Homo sapiens: one gene and its partner. The protein of the gene in region 2 purifies or fractionates together with the protein of the main gene of each other region. This does not show direct contact. Each region holds a gene or a part of one and is shown on either strand. Other genes may lie near its edges.

Region 1 (3,500 bases), about 63 Mb from region 2:
AAGCAAGACAAGAAATTTGCAGTAGACATTAATGTGGGTTCAGTACACATGAAGAATCTGGTAACTGGCCTCACCTATTCAACATATCTATTTGTGAAAGCTCTCCAACTTCACATCAGACATGTTCTTGACTTCTCAGCTGTCTTAGTCCATGTTCAGGCTGCTATCACAAATATACTACACAGTGGGTGGCTAATAAACAGGAATTTGTTTCTCACAGTTATGAAGGTTGGGAAGTGCAAGATCAAGACACTGGCGGTGAGGGCTCACTTCCTATTCACAGACGGTGCCTTCTTGCTGTATCCTCACATGGTGGAAGGGAGGAATGAACTCCCTTGGGCCTCTGTTACAAAGACACTATCCCATGCATGAGGGCTCTGCCTCCTGACCTAATCACCTCCCAAATACCCCACCTCTTAATGCCATCACTTCAAGGATTAGGTTCCAACATGTGAATTCCAGGGGACACAAACATTCAGATCACAGCACTGGCCTGTACAGAAGTACCATACATATCATATACCAGGACTAGAATCCAGTCACATATCTACAAAAGGTAGGCAGCTCAGGAGACATGCACACCACAAAGCACATTTCAGGCCACACGGGCCAACCCCAAAATGCAAAACTGATTATACTTTGCCCTGCCCTAATGTCTGAACACTTCAGGCATGTTCATCAAAATCTCTCTCATGCTGCACAAATTCTTATGGAGGGCTTACTCATGTCATTAAATCAAGTTTATGTCAGGTCAGACTTCCACATTCTGCCTTTATGGGCCACAAAGACTCCTGCTCCTGGCATTGTGTCACTCCAGCCTCTGCTCATTCCATCACTTTCACCTTCAACTCCACTGCCCAAATTGTATCCTTCTGCTAAATGCCAACTCAATGCCCCAGGTCTTAAGGGCATCCCATTCTCTCCAAGTCCCAGATCTCATTTCTCTCATGGTACTCAGCACTTTACCTTGACTACTTTACCTTGTCCATTTTCTTAGGAACTATGGTGGAAAATGGGAAAATTGTTGAAAATAAAGATGCCCAAGTCTTAAACCCTGTTTCTACCTACAGAACACTTCTGATACCACGTGTGTGTGCTTTTCCCATACTACCAACCAATTCTCCCACTCTCTAGACACCAAGCAAGTGGCCAATGATTCCATTCAATTCTGGCTCCTTGGAGAGAAGGCTGATTCCAGGTTTGGGGTAGAAAAAGAAAATGAGCCTGAAACATCTAGACATTAAGGAAGTGCTCAAAGACTAAAAGAAGCTACGGGTCCACAGTGATTAAAGAAAGATCACCATGAGTTTAACGGTGCCCCCTAAAATATGTCCACATTCCAATTCCTAGAATTTGTGATTGTTATCTTACTTGGAAAAAAGGTCTTTTTAGCTGTAATTAAAGATCTCAAGACAAAAAGATCATCCCGGATTATCCAGTTGGGCTCTAAATCTAGTGACAAATGTTCTTATAAGAAACACCCAGGAGAGATTTAGCAGACAGAAAAGGAGGAGGCCATGTCACCGCAGAGGCTGGAGCAGTGCAGGCAAAAGACAAGAAACCCTGGAGCCACAGAGGAGCATTCCGAGGGAGCTCAGCCCTGCCAACACCTTGGTTTCAGACTTCTGGCCACCAGATTTAGAAATAATAAATATCTCTTGTTTCAAAGGCACCTAATTTGGAGTAATTTGTTACAGCAGCCACGGGAAACTAATACAGTGAGAGAAGAAAAAGGGAGGGAAAGTTCTTTTCAAAACACCACCAGTTAATAACTATCAAAAGATTTACAAAATTAGAAAATCACTAACTGCAATCCCCAACAGAAAAATCGGTCCAGGCAAGGATCGTCAATGGACATGAAATGCACTGGCTGGAGAACAAGATATTCGCACAGGTGGCAAGAATCACTCCACAGATTGCATACTGCAAAAATGTACCTTCAAAATGAAGCAGCATAGAGGCCATTCCTTCCAGGGGTCACACTGAACAGTGTCAAGTGGGACCAGCCCAGACACTACATGTTCCCAACGACACCAATTAGCAAGCATTGTTATAAAAATGTTTAACTGAACTTAATCATAAGGAAACAATCAGACAAATCCAGAATGTGGGACATTTATAGGAAAACTGCTCTGGGCTTTTATATATATATATATACACACACACACACACACATATACATGAATATACGTAAATATGTATATACACACACACACATATATAGGTAAATGTTATGAGAAACAATCAAACAAACAAAAAAAAATCAGGCTACTATGGCTCCAGAAATTTAGAGGCATAAAACCAAATGCAACATGTAAATCTTGACTGGGTCCTAGATTTTAAACTAAACAAAAAAAAATTTTTTAATTAGCTGGCTGTGGTGGCACACACCTGTAGTCCCAGCTACTCAGGAGCCTGAGGCAGGAGGATCACCTGAGTCCAGGATTTTGAGGCTGCAGTGAACTAAGATCATGCCACTGCATTCCAGCATGGACAACAGATTGAAACCCTGTCTCAAAAAAACAGAAGCAAAAAAAAAATCTCAGAAAGGCTATCACAGTCATTTATGGTACAATGGGGGGAAATTTAAATATAGACTATATCTTAGATATTATTTTGTTAATTTTTAGGGAGTGATAATGGTAATGAGATTATATAGAAGAATACCTTTATTCTTAGGAGATATATGTAAAGTACTTGAAGGTGAAGTACTGTTACGTCTGCACCTTTCAAATATTTCAACAAAAAAAGTATATATAAAATATATACAAAAAAAGTAAGAAAAAGAAAAATGTGGAAAAAAATGTAGGCATCTGGTGAATCTGGGCAGAGAGTATTTGGGTGTTCACTAAAATATTCTTTTAGTAGAAAAGATAGAAAATCTGAAAGGAAATTTTGAAAATGTTGAAAATTCACAATTTCCAGCTTGTGCCTCCAACCCTCAGGCTCCTACAGGCCTAGGAGGATCCTAGGAACCTGCATTTGACAAGCCCAAGCTGATCTCACGCTCGGGTCAGCCTGGGAATGCCACCGGTACTAGGTTGTTGGATTTTAGCTGTCTGCTGTCCCCCAGGGTCCTCTGGCGTCACAGTGATATCTAACTTGCTGCACATCCTCCAAGGCAGAGGCTAACAATTGTGTCCCGAATGAATTTATGAGGGCAATTGCCGATCATGTGGGAGCTGATTATATTAAGGGCAAAACTGTACCGTAACCAAAGTCCCAACCTCAGGGAAGTTTGAAGTCTATTACCATAAACACAAAACTAAGACACATAAAACACTCTTTCATATGGTTTTCAGGTTTTATCTCTTTTCTTGTTAAGTAACACTGACAGGAAAGAAAGGTACCACAACTAAAATGTCACTACAACAAAATCCACAATACACCAAAAATTACATAAATGTTACTAGATGTCACAATGTCACAACTGTAATTTCCTTTTTTTTTTTTTTTTGAGATGGAGTTTCGCTTTTGTTGCCCAGGCTGGAGTGCAATGG
Region 2 (3,500 bases):
ATTACATAATGACTGATGGGACCATACATCTTACCAAGGTTGCACAGGAGGTTTTGGGGGCAAACCTTTCATTGGAAGCAATATCCATCGTCCAGATCAAGAACTCCTTTGGGGTCAGATGGACACAGTGCTCCGTCTGGGGAAGCCACTCACCAGGGTCCATGCAGTGGAGAATTTTCAGTATCTGTGTAAGCCAAATCCGCACACAAAAAAGAGAAATAAATACTCAGGGAGATGTCTCTAGATGTTACATGATAATCAATTGTATCAACAAGAGGTCTACCTTTCAAAAGGCTCCCACTGACTTCTTATTTCCCCCATAATACCTTTGGGAGACTGAGGCAGAGTGATGCAATGACTAACCAGAGGGCCTCTAGTGACTTGGGATGGGAGCCAGATGCCCTGATTTTAGGCCAGTGCCCTTTCCTTTTGATTATGCTTCCCAGGTGGCCAACTGCCCTGAAATAGCCATGTCAGCAAAGACTACCTCTGACACACTCTACAGTGAATTTTTAATGATCTGTTTCCTAAACATCCCAAAGTGGTTTGCTCTGTCTTTGGTTAATCTCTGCCATCAATACTCCTATCATCAAAAGCTTTTCTTGGTGCCCTACCAGGTATGACGCCATGCCAACCACCATAAAAAGAGAGTCCTTATCCACTGGCTGCCGAATCTACTTCCTATTGCCCCTGGAGAGCCTAAACCCAATCTTGCCTTCATGATCCTACCATTCCAGTGGCTCACAAAAGAATGTGGGGAGTGTAAAGGGCCAGTCAGTACGTTGGAGACTTTACCTTGCAGAAGCATTCTGGGTGATTTTCCTTCATGGCCAACAATAAGAACTTCTCTCCCATGTTGCACAGCAAGGGTGGCACGCCCTTCTCTCCAAGTCCAGAGGCTGCTGCTAAGAACTTTTCCAAGAGGGCTTCCAGTGTTAGTGAGCGCACTTCAGGGAAGGCAGATTCTAACAGCTGAGAGAAAGAGATGGGGACATTCGTCTCCCGCTCTCCACTCTTGGCTGCCGCGGCCCACACTGCAGCAATGGCTAGTCTGGTGAGGCTCTGGAGGTACTGGGGCAGGCCTGGCACCTTGAAGGCCCAAGGGAATCCCGTTATCAGCTCTGATCCTGAGATAATCCCTCTGACTTCCTCCCAGAAGCCAAGACTCTCCAGAACTAAGAAGCAAAAAAAGCAAAAGGGAAAGAGATAATCACTTTAAATTTCCACAAAAGGACATGAAAGAATGAAGACTGAATCCACTGCGTGAGGCCATCAGATGTCTCCCATAAGCAGATTTCAAACACTGTCATAAGTGAGTGGCCCTCTAAGGTTCAGACTTCTAGTCCACAACAATTTCCATTTAGGTAATGTATAATTTTTCCAACAGGGGCACAAAGGCATTACTATTAGAAAATGCGTTCCTGGCACCCCTCCTCAACATTCAATAAATACGAACTCAGTGACCTCTTATCACCGAGCCTCAAAGCTGACCATGAGAAGAGGACATCTAGTATAAACTTCCTTCAGGGGTGAAGCTCCCCTCTGTAACACCCTTTCCCAGAAGCTCTTGGTTGAACCCTACAGTACCCTGGAGCTCATGAGACAGCTTATTCCATTGTTAGTAGATCTAATTGTCAAAAAGTTCTTTTTGTGTTTCTACTCACTGGCCTAATGCTACATTTTGAGGCTCCCAATGACAGCTCTTTAGACATTTGATTACAATTCTTGTGTCCCCTCTGTCTTCTCCAGATGAAACATTCCTACTTCCTTCCTCAAATGATGGGGTCACTGTCTCTCATTATTCTAGCTGCTTTCCTGTGGACATGCCTCACCCTCTCTTAAAGGATGGCCAATAGGCTGGATCACAAATCTCCTGCATGGTTTGACCCGCAGGACTATTACTTTCTCTGTTCTGAACTGGAGTTGCATCACACTGTTGACTCATATGGAGCACAAAGTCAACTGAAACCACAGCCCTTCTTTTTTGACGTGGTCTACTGATGGTGGTGAGTCATCTTTCTCCCACTTTGTACTCAGTACTTAAGCCAAGATGTGTTTTCTTTGTTTATTTTAAGCCCAAGTATATCCCTGTTAAATTTTATCCTCCTGTTAAGTTTTATGGTCTACCTTTCATTTGCCGAGATCTTTTCATATTCTCAGTTCTGATTAAAAAAATAAAAAAACCAAAAACTTATTGCCTGCTTACTATGTGCTAGGAGCTAAATAAGATCACTGCCCTTAAGGAGTTTATAGTCAGTCTAGTTTGAGAAAGAGAAATGCATGAACACATAATTCCAATATAGTGGTACAAATGATAACCTAGGCCTCAAAGAGGAAGACAGGTGACAATGTGTTAGCACCACCAAAGGCAGGGGAACCAGCTGAGCAAAGGCTCAACAAAGGCATGAAACAGAACGGACCATGTGGGGAACTACAGGCCATCCCATAACACTGGAGCATAAAATTTGAGGTGGGAAAGGGCAGGAGATGAGGCTAGGGAAGAAATGTGGCTAGAGTACAGAAAGCCTCCTAGACAATGTGAAGCAGCTAGTTCTGTATGCAACGGAATGCCACTGGGGGGTTATTTTAAGCAGTAAGGTCAGGGGCCCATTTTCACTGAAGTGCTCTTATCGTTGAGGAGGCAATATTAGAGGCAGGGAGACCAGTTACAACACTACTGCACCGTAGTCCAGGAGAGAAATAAATGACGAGGGCCTTAAGTTCAGAAGGAATCAGGAGAAGGTGGGTTTAAGAAACGCTGAAGGTCTGAAGCCAAGGTGATCATTTAAAAAGGCAAAAAAGAAAGAAAAAAAAACACTGAAGGGATAAAACTGGCAGGACTAGGGAATGAGGGTGCGGACTAGGGTAGGAGTCTCGGGTACCTCCCAGCACCCAGTTCTTCACACATGTTCATCATCTAATAGAAATTGGGTAAACCAGCTGGGCGTGGTGGCTCATGCCTGTAATCCCAACATTTTGGGAGCCCAAGGTGGGAGGACTGCTTGAGCCCAGGAGTTTGAGACCAGCCTGGACAACACTGTGAAAATCTATTTCTACAAAAAATAAAAAGTCAGCTGGGTGGGGGATCACTTGAGCCCAGGAGGTTGAGGATGCAGTGAGCCAGGATGCTGACACTGCATTCCAGCCTGGGCGACAAAGTGAGACCCTATCTCAAAAACGCATACAAAGTAGTTGGCAAACTTCAATTTCACAGGAATGCCTAAATGCCCAAAATCAAATAATTACTAAAAATGTGGGCAAGCTGGAGGGTGGAGGCCTTTGGTGAGCAGGCTCCCTGCTGGCCCTTGCCTCAAACGCTCTTCCAGGCTCTCACTAATTCATTAACTAGCCCTCTTCGGTTTGAGTCATCCCCCACTTATGAATCCTCTTAATTGTATCATTCTGTCCATGAAGTTTTATCTACAAGAACTTATGACAGACTTCACCAAATGCCTTGCCAAAATTTAGATATTATATTCATAGCATTCTCTGATAAATCC

Evidence for each region. The genes of interacting proteins can lie anywhere in the genome.
Region 1: the proteins of THADA (region 2) and UXS1 purify together in Homo sapiens (co-immunoprecipitation; one large-scale study listed by IntAct). This does not show direct contact.

What each region holds. Positions count from the first base shown.
Region 1 is NC_000002.12:106,184,302-106,187,801, forward strand, and holds part of UXS1 (UDP-glucuronic acid decarboxylase 1), read right to left. Parts: intron 1-3,500. UniProt on the Homo sapiens protein: Catalyzes the NAD-dependent decarboxylation of UDP-glucuronic acid to UDP-xylose. Necessary for the biosynthesis of the core tetrasaccharide in glycosaminoglycan biosynthesis.
Region 2 is NC_000002.12:43,292,039-43,295,538, forward strand, and holds part of THADA (tRNA (32-2'-O)-methyltransferase regulator THADA), read right to left. Parts: intron 1,176-3,500; coding exon 796-1,175; intron 185-795; coding exon 66-184; intron 1-65. UniProt on the Homo sapiens protein: Together with methyltransferase FTSJ1, methylates the 2'-O-ribose of nucleotides at position 32 of the anticodon loop of substrate tRNAs.